Homo sapiens: one gene and its partners. The protein of the gene in region 1 purifies or fractionates together with the protein of each later gene. This does not show direct contact. Each region holds a gene or a part of one and is shown on either strand. Other genes may lie near its edges.

The links. The genes of interacting proteins can lie anywhere in the genome.
Region 2: the proteins of TRPC3 (region 1) and USP33 purify together in Homo sapiens (affinity purification with mass spectrometry; one large-scale study listed by BioGRID and IntAct). This does not show direct contact.
Region 3: the proteins of TRPC3 (region 1) and MX1 purify together in Homo sapiens (co-immunoprecipitation; one study listed by IntAct). This does not show direct contact.

Annotation. Positions count from the first base shown.
Region 1 is NC_000004.12:121,872,835-121,877,587, reverse strand, and holds the end of TRPC3 (short transient receptor potential channel 3), read left to right. Parts: 3' UTR 1-3,107; downstream 3,108-4,753. UniProt on the Homo sapiens protein: Forms a receptor-activated non-selective calcium permeant cation channel.
Region 2 is NC_000001.11:77,696,954-77,701,012, reverse strand, and holds part of USP33 (ubiquitin carboxyl-terminal hydrolase 33), read left to right. Parts: intron 1-3,081; coding exon 3,082-3,150; intron 3,151-3,538; coding exon 3,539-3,696; 3' UTR 3,697-4,059. UniProt on the Homo sapiens protein: Deubiquitinating enzyme involved in various processes such as centrosome duplication, cellular migration and beta-2 adrenergic receptor/ADRB2 recycling.
Region 3 is NC_000021.9:41,450,079-41,454,954, forward strand, and holds part of MX1 (interferon-induced GTP-binding protein Mx1), read left to right. Parts: intron 1-1,088; coding exon 1,089-1,165; intron 1,166-2,542; coding exon 2,543-2,791; intron 2,792-4,876.

The sequences.
Region 1 (4,753 bases):
TACTGGACCAGTGCACCTGTCTCCCAGATTCTCCTGTGCAGTTCCTAGCCAATCACTTCCCCTGGAGAATTGCCCTCAGCTAAAAAGAAGAAGCCTTGCTCGGGATGTGATGCCTCCGCCTCCCCATGGCCAGTGACTGATGGGTGGGGGCACAAAGGGCTGGCCCCTTGTCTCAAGATGGGGCCAACTATTCAGTGCAGTTCATGCTCCAGAGCTCCTGAAAGGATTAGGGTGATGCCAGACTCAAGCTGAGATGAAATCCTGGTTTAGATTCTTCCTCTGCCTTTTCCAGTTTCCTTCCTTCCCTTTCTCCAGAGAGCATCCCCTTAATGAGTCACCACATCCAAATCTTATTAGGTTTTGCTTTTAGGGAACTCACACTAAGCCATAAGGTATTAATGTGGTAGCATACGGTTGAGATGAGGATTAGTCGAGGGGATTGCTGTCAGAATTAGTCCTTCACTTGAGGATAAAGATAGCTCTGGGTCAGCAAGTCTTTTCCCTAGTCACTTTTAACAGGTACCTTTGGGAAAACAAACCTCAAAGAAGTTGTTGGGGCAACTCAGAGAAGGGAGCATTTAAACAGGACCAAAAACAACTTTATAGAAAAAAACATTAATTAAAGGATTGTCAAAGCCCCAGGACTCTTTTTTCCTTAGGACATCTCTCATTTTTTACCTCTTTGCTATTCTTATTTTTTTCTCATTTACAGATAAAGAAAAGAAAGCAACACTCAAAGTGCTTCTTAGACTTATTGTTCGAAAAGTTGGGTACTTTGTAAGTGCCTGCTGTATTGAATTTACAGAGCACCCATGACTTTATGGAAGTCACAATCTGTTGAAAAGTTTGGGTTCTTAGACTTGAAATAATGAGAAAACTTTGAAAAATGGTACAGAGTATCTTTACAGAGTTTATGCACAATAAAAACAAAAATGATATGTTGTGATTATTAAAAGCAAATTTGGTACAATTTAGGATAACTATCTTACCCAATATGTCAATATATTTATATTTCAAATGTGCAAGCCAAGTGAAAGCAGCTTTTGTAAATGGGAAGATAAATTGTCTGATGGACAATGTCTAAAGAGAACTGAAGCCACACTAATGACTGTGGTATGGGACAAACCATTTAACTTCTCTGGTCTTCATAAATGGTTCAGGCAAACAGGGTTATGCTACATCAGGGGTTCCTAGTCCCTGGAGCTCATAGAGGTGTTTTAGGAGGTTAATGTCATCATCCAAGGTGGTAATCTTTCTTTCCATGTCTTTTTAAATTTTTTAAATAAAGTTTTTAAAATACATTTTTAGAGGCGGGTCTCACTATGTTGTCCAGGCTAGTCTTTAACTTTTGGCCTCAAGCGATCCTCCTGCCTCAGCCTCCCAAAATCAGGCTGGGCACAGTGGTGCACACCTGTAATCGCAGCACTTTGGGACGTTGAAGCAGGTCGATGGCTTCAGTTCAGGAGTTCGAGACCAGCAGGGCAACATGGTGAAACTGTCTCTACAAAAAATACAAAAAAAATTAGCCGGGCATGGTGGCATGTGTCTGTGGTTCCAGTTACTCAGGAGGCTGGGGTGAGAGGATAACTTGAGCCCAGGAAGTTGAGGCTGCAGTGAGCTGGTTCACGCCACTGCACTCCAGCCTGGGTGACAAAGTGAACCACCCCCCACAAAAAAAAAAAAAAAAAAAAAAAAAAATCTAAAATGGGTATTTATAACTTTGTTCAGTTTAAAAAAGAGTTTGAGAATTTCTAAATTTATACCATGTGTTAGGGGAAACTAATGTTTTTACTCATGACTCAGTCACTCAGCTGACCACCACTAGCGTGTTGATGGTTTTAACTTTAATGCAGTTTAAATTGCTTTTATTTTTAGCCATAAGTTGTTTAACTTATACTCATAATGGTTGCTTTAGCACCATAACATAAGGTTATAAATTACTGAGGTGCATGGTAATTCTGCAAATTTGTCTCTAAAGTGGTCTTTGTCACATCTGAGAGGCAGCCATCTTCTGTTGAGTTTTATAAAGACCACCAAGATGTCTCTGATACCCTAAAACATCTTTAAAAAGAGGACACACAGTGGTAATTTAACTTGACATTTTCTTTATTGTGAATAAAAATTCCTTACCCTGCTAATTAATTATTTGAGGAATACTTAAAATTAGTAGGTTGAAATCTTTACTAATCATTTAGAAACAAAACATAGTATGTACTTTAAAAATAATAAATTGCATTTTTAGATGCAAAATCAAAGAATTCCAAATATCATATTATGCAAACTTTTTGTATTGTTTTGATGCTATATCATAGCCTCATTTCACTGTTTTAAAATAAATTTGAGCTTCAAAATAAACTTTTACTTTCCTTCTACACAATTAATTGAACAGTGGACATCACTTGCTAAATGGAAAGTAAGCACTGCCAGCATTGTCTGTCTTTGGTGTTTTTTTTTTTACCTATTTATTAGAACCATAGTATTTCTTCATTATTAATTTGTATGAACTATTTTTTAAGATATTAACTCTTTTCTCCTATATTTTTGTTTTCATTTAAACATTGTTGTGACATATTGAAATGTTTATCTTTACTTTTCATTTTTTTTAAGTTAGTTTTTTGTTTGTTTTTTAGAGATGGGGCCTTGCTATTTTGCCCAGGCTGGATTGTTGGGCTCAAGCAATCTTGAGCCTCAGCCTTCAAATAGCTGAGACTACAGGCATGTAACACCATATCTGCTTTTTTCCTTTGTGGTTTCTTCTATTCCTTTTGAGATCAGTTTCCTTCTGTTATGGGCTGAATTGTGTCCCCTCAAAACTCATGTTAAAGTCCTCGCCTTCAGTATCTCAGACTATAACTATAGTTGGAGATAGGGTCTTTAAAGAGGTAATTAATTTAAAATGAGATAATATGACTGGTGTGCTTATAAAAAGACAAGATGAGACACAGACAGACATAGAGGGAGGACCACGTGAAGACACGGAGAAGATGACGATCTATAAGCCAAGAAGAGAGGCCTCTGAAGATCGGTTTTATTCCCTGCTGACACCTTGATCTATGACTTCTAGACTCCAAGACTGTGAGAAAATAAATTTCTGTTGTTGAAAAGCCTCCCAGTGTGTACTACTTTGCTATGGCAGCCCTAGCAAACTAATACTATATCCTCCAACCTCCAAAATTCTGTAAAATGCTATACAATTCTATTTTCTTCTGTCTTTTCTATGGCTTTATTTTTCAGTTGACTTCTAAAATTTATTTGTATTTTTTTCTTGAATCTAAATTGATATATATTTCCCCCAAATTGCTGAACAGCTAACCCATCTACATGTATTGTCTATTTTAATGTGGGATTATTTTAGCCTCAGAGATATAATTGTCTGGAACACAGGGAAAACTTTTTCAGATATTGCTGCAGTAAATAACTTCTCTTCTTAAGAAGCACCTCTTCTCAGGGATTTAATTCTTTTTGTTTCACAATTATTTGTGAACTCTTTCCTGGAAAACCACAGTGGCTCATGTCTGTAATCCCAGAACTTTGGGAGGCTGAGGTGGGCGGACCACTCGAGCCCAGGAGTTCAATACCAGCCTGGGCAACATGGCAAAACTCCATCTCTACAAAAAAAAAAAAAAAGAAAGAAAGAAAAAGAAAAACCACAAGAATCAGGAAAGTAGCTGTATCTGAACTTATCTGTATTTCCCCAGGCAGAGCTCTATGCACATTAAGGAAGGACCGATGAAAGTGAGTCAAAGAATGTCAGCTCTTAAATCCTGGGTCACTATGGGTCAGTAGTAGTCTGTGGGGCCCCGAGGGGCAGGGGTGGTTCCTGAGGCCTTTTCACAGCTGTCTGCAATTTTGAAACTATTTTCATAACACTAAGTTGTGATTTGCCATTTCACTCTGCTGACATTTGCACTGATGGTACCGAAACAATGGTGGTTAATACTGCTAGTGCTTAAGCATAAATCAAAATAGTGGCTCCAAACTGTACTAGTAGACACCATATTCTATATAACATGCACTGATAGGAAACAAAAACCATTTCATATAAAAATGTTCTTAACGAAGCAGCAACATTGTTAATATTATCTTTTTTTCTTTTTTCTTTCTTCTGATTCAGCCCTCATTTATTACATCTTAACTCTTGAATATGTCTTTTTAAATGTTCTATGTGAGGACATAAGAAGTATGTATAAAATCCTTCTACTGAATACTGAAATACATTAGTTGTCTCAAGGAAAAGCACTTGTGGGATTGAGCTGCTAGCTGAACTTCCTGCTTTTTTCATGGGACACTTTTTATTTGAAGGAATTACTCACAAATTATGATTATTCAGACTTAGATATCTGGCATTTACTTTCTTGTGAATTCAAGAAGGGAACCTATCAGTTCAAGGAAAACAATCGACATTTCTTGCCAATGTGTAAATTTCAAACTTTCAAGCACAAATTTGAATTTTGGAAAATATGTATTCACCATCTAAGTTTGACAGATCTCCCATACTCGGGACTTTACTGATGAGATCCATGGTGATACTAACAGATGGAATTTTTTGATGTTGTGTAACAAAGTCACATTTCACATTGCAACTAACCTTTCAAAAAACTACTACTTGTTGAGTTTGGACCAAATTTTCTTCATATACATGAACAAAAACAACATATAACAATAGATTGAATGCAGTAGCAGATTTGAAGCTCCTCCTGTCTACTATTAAAATGGACAGAAAATAGATTTGCGCACAGTACCAGTTATTTTA
Region 2 (4,059 bases), on another chromosome or scaffold:
GATATTCTGATATGTGCCAGGCACGGTGGCTCACGCCCATAATCCCAAAAGTTTGGGAGGCTGACGTGGGTGGATCACCTGACGTCAGGAGTTCAAGACCAGCCTGAAACATAGTGAAACCCTGTCTCTACTAAAAATACAAAAATTAGCTGGGTGTGGTGGCAGTCACCTGTAATCCCAGCTACTCAGGAGGCTGAGGCAGGAGAATTGCTTGAATCCACGAGGCGGAGGCTGCAGTGAACTGAGATCATGCCACTGTACTCCAGCCTGGGTGACAGAGCAAGACTTTGTCTTTAAAAAAAAAAAAAAAAAAAAGATTCTGATATGTGAAAAAGGCTGCAACAATATGCCTAGTTAAAGCTTTTTGTATTTATGTATTTACTTTTTAAAATTTTAAATTAATAGAGACAAGGTCTTAACCCTGTTGCCCAGGTTTAAGTACAGCAGCATGATTATGGCTCACTGCAGCCCTGAACTCTCAGCCCATGCGATCCTCCTACCTCCATCTCCTGAGTAGTTGGGACTACAGGCATGTACTACCACACTTGGCTAATTTAAAAATTATTTTTTACAATTATTTGTAGAGACATGGTCTCACAGTGTTGCCCAGGAACTCCTGGGCTCAAGCAGTGCACCAACCTTGGCCTCCCAAAGTGCTGAATTACTGAGTTCTCTCTGTATTGTCCAGGCTGGCCTCAAACTCCTGGGCTCCAGCGATCCTCTTGCTTCAGCCTCCTGAGTAGCTGGGACTATAGGTGCACACCACCATATCTGGCTTTTCTACACCTTTAAAAAAATTTATTTTTATTTTGTAAGTTCCAGCATACATGTGCAGGATGTGCAGGTTTGTTACATAGGTAAACATGTGCCATGGCGATTTGCTCCACCTATCAACCCATTACCTAGGTATCAAGCCCAGCATGCATTAGCTGTTTTTCCTGTTGTTCTCCCACCCCTCATCCCTCAACCCCCACCAACAGGCCCTAGTGTGTGTTCTCCTCCCTGTGTCCTTGTGTTCTTGTTGTTCAGCCCCCACTTATAAGTGAGAACATGCAGTGTTTGGTTTTCTGTTCTTGCATTAGTTTGCTGAGGATAATGGCTTCCAGCTCCATCCATGTCCCTGCATAGGACATGATCTCTTTCCTTTTTATGGCTGCGTAGTATTCCATAGTGTATATTTACCACATTTTCTTTATCCAGTCTATCATAGATGGGCATTTGGGTTGATTCCTTATCTTTGCTATTGTGAATAGTGCTGCCATGAACATATGTGTGCATGTATCTTTATAATAGAATGAATTGTGTTCTTTTGGATATATACCCAGTAATGGGATTGCTGGGTCAAATGGTATTTCTGGTTCTAGGTCTTTGAGGAATTGCCACACTGTCTTCCACAATGGTTGAACTAATTTACATTCCCACCAACAGTGTAAAAGTGTTCCCATTTCTCCACAGCCTCGCCAGCATCTCTTGTTTCTTGACTCTCTCTTTTTTTTGAAAAAGAGGCTCACTTTGTCACTCAGGCTGGAGTGGAGTGGCGTGATCTCAGCTCATTGCAACCTCCTCCTGGGTTCAGACGATTGTCCTGCCTCAGCGTCCTGAGTAGCTGGGATTACAGGTGCCGCTGTCATGCCTGGCTAATTTTTCTATTTTTAGTAGAGATGGGGTTTCACCATGTTAGCCAGGTTGGTCTCAAACTCCTGATCTCAAGTGAGCCACCTGCCTCGGCCTCCCAAAGTGGTGGGATTACAGGCATAAGCCACTGGGCCCAGCCTGTTTCTTGACTTTTTAATAACTGGCATTCTGACTGATGTGACATGGTATCTCATTGTGGTTTTGATTTGTGTTTCTCTAATGATCAGTGATGTTGATCTTTTTTTCATGTTTTTTTGGCCACATAAATGTCTTCTTTTGAGAAGTGTTCATGTTCTTTGTCCACTTTCTAATTGGGTTTTTTTAATTGTAAATTTGTTTAAGTTGCTTTTACAACTTTTGATGATGACCATGCGGTTCACTTTTGCCTTAAATTTTAAAAAGAATGTATTTAAACGGTTTCTTTTATAATGCTTTTATTGTTCTTAATGTTACTTTGATAATCTGAAGCAAATTAATTGTATAATTTCTTTCAAATTACAAAGGAATTGCTATTTTATAGCATTAGTGGTACATTTTGACTTGTAATCCCCAAATGGAGAGTTAAAAAATAATTTCTGGGCCGGGCGTGGTGGCTCATGCCTGTCATCCCAGCACTTTGGGAGGCCGAGGGGGGTGGATCACGAGGTCAGGAGATCAAGACCATCCTGGCTAACACGGTGAAACCCCATCTCTACTAAAAATACAAAAAATTAGCTGGGCGTGGTGGTGGGTGCCTGTAGTCCCAGCTACTCGGGAGGCTGAGGCAGGAGAATGGCATGAACCTGGGAGGCGGAGCTTGCAGTGAGCCGAGATGATGCCACTGCACTCCAGCCCTTGGCAACAGAGCGAGACTCCGTCTCAAAAAAAAAAAAAAAAACAAAACATTTCTGTTAAACTGTGATGGTTGTGAACGAGCCTCTCTTACCTTCTTTCCTGGTTCTGTTTTGGGGGAACTAAGAACTAAAAACGAAGAAGCTCAGGAGAAGACATTAAGAATTAACCATAGGCCAGGTGTAGTGGCTCACGCCTGTAATCCCAGCACTTTGGGAGGCTGAGGTGGGTAGATCGTGAGGTCAGGAGTTCGAGACCAGCCTGACCAACATGGTGAAACTCCCATCTCTACTAAAAAAAAAAAAAAAAGCAAAAATTAGCCGGGCGTGGTGGTGTGTGCCTGTATTCCCAGCTACTCAGGAGGCTGAGGCAGGAGAATCACTTGAACCCAAGGCGGAGGTTGCAGTGAGCTGTGATGGTGCCACTGCACTCCAGCCTGGGCAACAGAGCGAGACTCCATCTCAAAAAAAAAAAAAAAGAATTAACTATAATAATTTGCCTGAGAAATAACCAGTCTGATAATGTAGTTATAGGTCACAATTTTGTCAAGCACAAAATTATGCAATTTTTTGTTACATTTCTTTGAAAAATACATTTTGATATTTTTTCCTTTAGATCCTCCAGGTCCTATTGACAATACTAAGATTGCAGTCACTAAATGTGGTAATGTGATGCTTAGGCAAGGTAAGTTTGACTCGTATTTAAGCTTTTACTTGTGAGTGATTTGTCACTGTTAGAAATATGTTATCATTAGTCATCTATAGTACTTTTTTATTCAACTGAAGAATGTAATCCATACATTAACTAGGGCAAGTAATGAAAAGCAGCCACTTTTTTTTTATCTGAGGAAAGGTCTTAAGGCTGTTGTTAAGAGCAAAGCAAAAGCATCTCTGACTTTTTAAGACAAGCCATATGTTTCAGCTTATAACAATATGGGCTGGTAGTCTGCAGATTCATGTTCCAGAAGTTCTCAATTATCCCGAGAAGATTCATGCTGGGGGGTACATTATGAACGCTTTTGCAATATGAATATATAGGTTTGTAAACATTATTTCTTCTACGTAATTTTAAGGAGCAGATTCTGGCCAGATTTCTGAAGAAACATGGAATTTTCTGCAGTCTATTTATGGTGGAGGGCCTGAAGTTATCCTGCGACCTCCGGTTGTTCATGTTGATCCAGATATACTTCAAGCAGAAGAAAAAATTGAAGTAGAAACTCGGTCTTTGTAATTTTTAGGATGTAGAGAGTTCTAATGAGGAATCATTTTCATGTGCCCTGACATGTACACATGCGAAAACATTCCTAAAAGCGTGTTTATTTGCTTTATTTTTTTTCATCATTTATCCCATTTATTTCTTCTTAGTGGGCATTATGGAAGAATATATTAAAATGTGTAATATACCACAGGTTGGTATATTTAGTTTTAAATACTTACCATAAAGTCTTTCAGTGTAATTTTTTTTTGAGACAGAGTCTTGCTTTGTCACCCAGGCTGGAGTGCTGTGGTGTTACCTCAGCTCACTGCAGCCTCCACCTCCTGGGTTCAAGCGATTCTCCTGCCTCAGCCTCTCGAGTAGCTGGGATTACAGGCA
Region 3 (4,876 bases), on another chromosome or scaffold:
TTATATTTTTCCTATCACACCACACCTCCCCCCTGCTCCACTGCTATGCTGGCTTCACACTCAAAATCGGCTGTTTATTTGAAATCTCCGAGGAGTAAAGCCAATGGTTCCATAACTGCACGTGTAGATGTGTTTGGAACCTTTTGGAGTGCTGTAGGAATCTAGGTGTGTCACGGATAGGTAGGAAACTAGATCCTACTGTGGATCCACTCCCTTCTTGAAATGCTTTGCTTTCTTGGTTTTCCAGGTATTAAATCTCTATTCTTCATCCTCTCCTTGACTGACAGTATCCTTACTCACACTTCAGCTGCCTCATCTTAGCAGTAATTAATAATCACTCATGGATCCATGAACTAAGGAGCTGGAGATAGCCTCAGAACAGCTCATTCAGAGGTGTATTTCCAGTAAAATTGACCTTTTAGCCCTGATAATCATATACCAAAACCTGCAATCATGTTGTTTTGGTCCATTGTAGACTCTTAACTCATTCCAGAGGAAAGTTTATAATACTTAGAGCCTTATAGTCATAAAAATCAACATAGATATACCTATTTCTTTTTCAGAAATGTATGACATGGAGATCAATAAGAGGTTTTCAATCATAAAGATACTATACCTTGTATTACAATAAAATTCTGTGAGGAAGTAGAATAGAAATGAGTTTCAAAAATAAAAGATAAATAATATAAATTTTTTAATCTAAGAGCTTGTTCTTGTATTTTTTTCAAATGGATAATGTAGACACTCAAATTCCATTGATATATTTAAGAGTGATTTGACTTATATTAAGAGTTGTATTATAAAATATTAATATTTATAATTTAAAAGAAATTACATTCTTTGCAGCTATTTAGGATAAAAAGTTTAAATATCAAATAAATGTATGCCAGGGGTCATTTGCTTTTAAGATTCTTCCAGCAAATTATTAAGCAAAAAGAGCATGCCTTGCTTTTTCATGGTAAAGAGAAGAAGGGAGCGGGGAGAGGGGAAACTTTACTTCATACCATTTGATCCTCATATTTTTTTGCATCTTAAGAAGAGAACAAATGATCCTACCAATATTGAACTATTTTTCTCTCTTTGATTAGATATGGTCCGGCTTGCTTTCACAGATGTTTCGATAAAAAATTTTGAAGAGTTTTTTAACCTCCACAGAACCGCCAAGGTAAAACCAACCATGTGTTGTTTAAAAAAAAAAAAGAAAAGAAATTAAGCTTGACACTAGAAAATAGATTTCTTGGATGAGGATTATTTCAACTTTATTGTATACTTTTAGAACAGCAAATAACATCACTCACTAGTGCTTCTTCTGATGTTACCGGTGATGTCTGGTTAAAAGCAATAAAGGAGGGAGTGCTTAAACGCACAGAACAAGAGATCCACAGTTAGCGGAGAAGATTATCACATCTAAGGGCAATGGCTCCAAATCCAGAAACTCACTGAGGAAACTACATATAAAAATAGAATATTTCTGGCCCGAGTGGGCATGATGAGCCTGTAATCCCAGCACTTTGGGAGGCTGAGGCCGGTAGATGACTTAAAGCCAGGAGTTTGAGACCAGCCTGGCCCACATGGCAAAACCCCATCTCTACTAAAAATACAAAAAAGTAGCTGGACGTGGTGGTGCATGCCTGTAATCCCAGCTACTTGGGAGGCTGACACTTTAGAATTGATTGAGCCCAGGAGGTGGAAGTTGCAGTGAGCCAACATTGCATCACTGCACTCTAGCCTAGGCGATGGAGCGAGACCCCGTCTCAAAAAAAAAAAAAAAAACAAACAAAAAAACTTTCCATCCAGAGTGAGGAAAGAGCCTACAGGAAATGAGCCTGGGGGACAGACTGGGCCAAGAGACCAGACTTAGCCACTCTTAGAAATAGGTGTCCCCGGCACAGATGAGGAGCCTGGCCCCATGATTCACCAGCTGGAGGCCTTGGGATGTGCCACTTCCAGCCTGTGCCCCTGACTCCTCATTCATAAAAGAAGACTGATAAGGCCTTCCTCAGAAGGTTGAGATGGACGTGGAGTAAGATGTTTAGGATGCACCTGCCACTGTGCACTGTGCCTCTCCTCAAGGCCTGGAGGGTCCAGGGGTGAAGTTTCTCCTCCTCAGGTTTTGGCAACCAGTTTCTCTAAACCCCGGGAACATAAAACATAATTTTCTGACTTAAACATGGCTTTCCTGCTCATCCCTGTGGATTATCTGATGGATATGACAATCCTCGCCATCAGATATAGAAGCCCCTAAAAGAGAAAGGAAAGAAGCTGAGTTACGGGGCCTGAAAGCAAGCCTGTGCAGGTCCCCAGGCCCCGGGATGGGGGTCCGGCCCATCTGTGGCTCAAGCCTCCTGGGAAGCTCTGACCCTCAGCCAGGGCTAGAAACCTGCCTTAGATACACCAGGGCGCGGCCCAGAGGGCTGTTCCAGGAAACGTGCTGTTTCACTCACGTTGGGTAACCTGGTATTTACGGACTTCTTACCTACTTTCCTGTGACTCAGGAATTTGTGTCTTGAGGGAAACTGTATTTATTTATTTTTTACTGTAGTCCAAAATTGAAGACATTAGAGCAGAACAAGAGAGAGAAGGTGAGAAGCTGATCCGCCTCCACTTCCAGATGGAACAGATTGTCTACTGCCAGGACCAGGTATACAGGGGTGCATTGCAGAAGGTCAGAGAGAAGGAGCTGGAAGAAGAAAAGAAGAAGAAATCCTGGGATTTTGGGGCTTTCCAGTCCAGCTCGGCAACAGACTCTTCCATGGAGGAGATCTTTCAGCACCTGATGGCCTATCACCAGGTACGTCTTCGCGTGGTTCAGGATGCCAGCTTCCATTCTTTCCTTTTCTTCTGAACGCCTCTCTCTTTAGTCTTGCTCTCTCTGTAGGTGACGTTGGTCAGCTCTGTCGTTTACCTCCTTGTTAGCCTCCTGTATTAGTCCATTTTCATGCTGCTGATAAAGACATACCTGAGACTGGGCAATTTACAAAAGAAAGAGGTTTAACGGACTTACAGTTCCACATGGCTGGGGAGGCCTTCTACCATCACGGCAGAAGGCAATGGGCACTTCTTACCTGGCGGCGGTGGCAAGAGAGAGAATGAGAGCCAAGTGAAAGGGGTTTCCCCTTATCAAACCATCAGATCTCATGAGAGTTACTCACTACCATGAGAACAGTATTGGAGAAACTGCCCCCATGATTCAGTTATCTCCCCCTGAGTCCCTCCCACAACAGGTGGGAATTATGGGAGTACAATTCAAGATGAGATTTGGGTGGGGACACAGAGCCAAACCATATCGCCTTCGTAGAAGCAGCTCAACCTCAGACAGAGAGATGGTGGCTTAGAGCCAGTGACATCTGGTTTTGATGGCTGTCTAGCTCTGGCCAAGTTACTTAACCTCTCTGAGCCTCAGCTTTCTTTGTAAAATGGTGTCTCCTCATAGATTCTAGTGCATATTCCAGGAGACGAGTGTGGATGATGATAATGGATTGCTAATGGAAAAACCAAACTCTGTTAAAATATTTGAAAGAGGTTTATTCTGAGCCAAATATGAGGGACCATGGCTCTGGGAACAGTCTCAGGAGGTCCTGAGGAAGTGTGCCTGAGGCTGTCAGGATGCAGTTTGATTTTATACATTTCAGAGAGGCAGGAATTGTAGGTAAAATCATAAATCAATACATGGGAGGTGTACTTGCCCTCCCTAAAGAGGCAGGACACCTTGAAGGAGGGGGAGCTTACCGGTCATAGGTGGGTTCAGAGATTTTCTGGTTGACGATTGCTTGAAAGAGTTAAACTTTGTCTACAAACTTGACATCAATAGAAAGAAATGCCTGAGTTAAGGCAGTGTTAGAGGCCAAAGGTATGTAGATGAAGACTCTGGGTAGCAGCCTTCAGAGAGAATAAATGGTAAATGTTTCTTTTCAGGCCTTAGAGGCAGCAGGCTCTCAGTTAATCTCTCCTAGATTCAGGGAAGGCCTAGAAGGGGAGAGGTCTGACTGCATTAATGGAGATTCTCTACAGGTGCAAATTCCCCCCCCACAAAACATGGCAGGGCCATTTCAATCTGTTGGTCCTGTTACAGCCGTTTCAAAATATGTCCACAAAATATATTTTTAGGTAAAATATTTGTATTTCCTTTAGGGTCTGCAATCTGTCTTGTGATGCTATACCAGAGTCGGGTTGGAAAGTAAGCCATTTTATACTGAGTTCATGGAAACTCATCCAAGGAGATTTCATGGTTTGTGGGGTGTGTGTGACTTAACCCCTGCCTCACATGACTTTATAATATGGTATCTTACTACTCCAGAGTCTTTTTGGCCAACCTTATGATCTCAATTTCAACCTAAACTCCAAAAGGGCCTGGCTTCTCTTCCTGTTACGGCCAGGAATTCAGATTTTCAGGTTTCTCTGGGGTCCACTTGGCCAAGAGGGGGTCTGTTGAGTTGGCTGGAAGGCATAGGATTTTATTTCTGGTTTACAACAATTTCCTTAGTGCAGCATTGGAATGCAATGGTAGCAGACTAAATGGAAGCTATCGCGTAGACACATGCTTTGGTTGATACTGCACGATTCAGTTAACCTGAAGTACAATCTAATTCATCCTAGGGAAGGAGGCAGTGAACACAGACACAACTCAGGTAGAGCCCTTGGGATGTGTAAACACCTGAGGAGGTAAAGCAAATTGTAATCTCTCGGTTTATCAGATGTCCCCATTGCCTTACTATTTGGATGCTTTAAAGCAGGGCCTCTCAAACTCCACCCAGCACAGAGGCCTCCTGGGATCTTGTGGAAATGCAGATGCTGATTGCAGGTCAGGATGAAGCTGAGATTCTGCCTTTCTTTTTTTTTTTTTTTTGAAACCGAGTCTCACTCCATTACCCAGGCT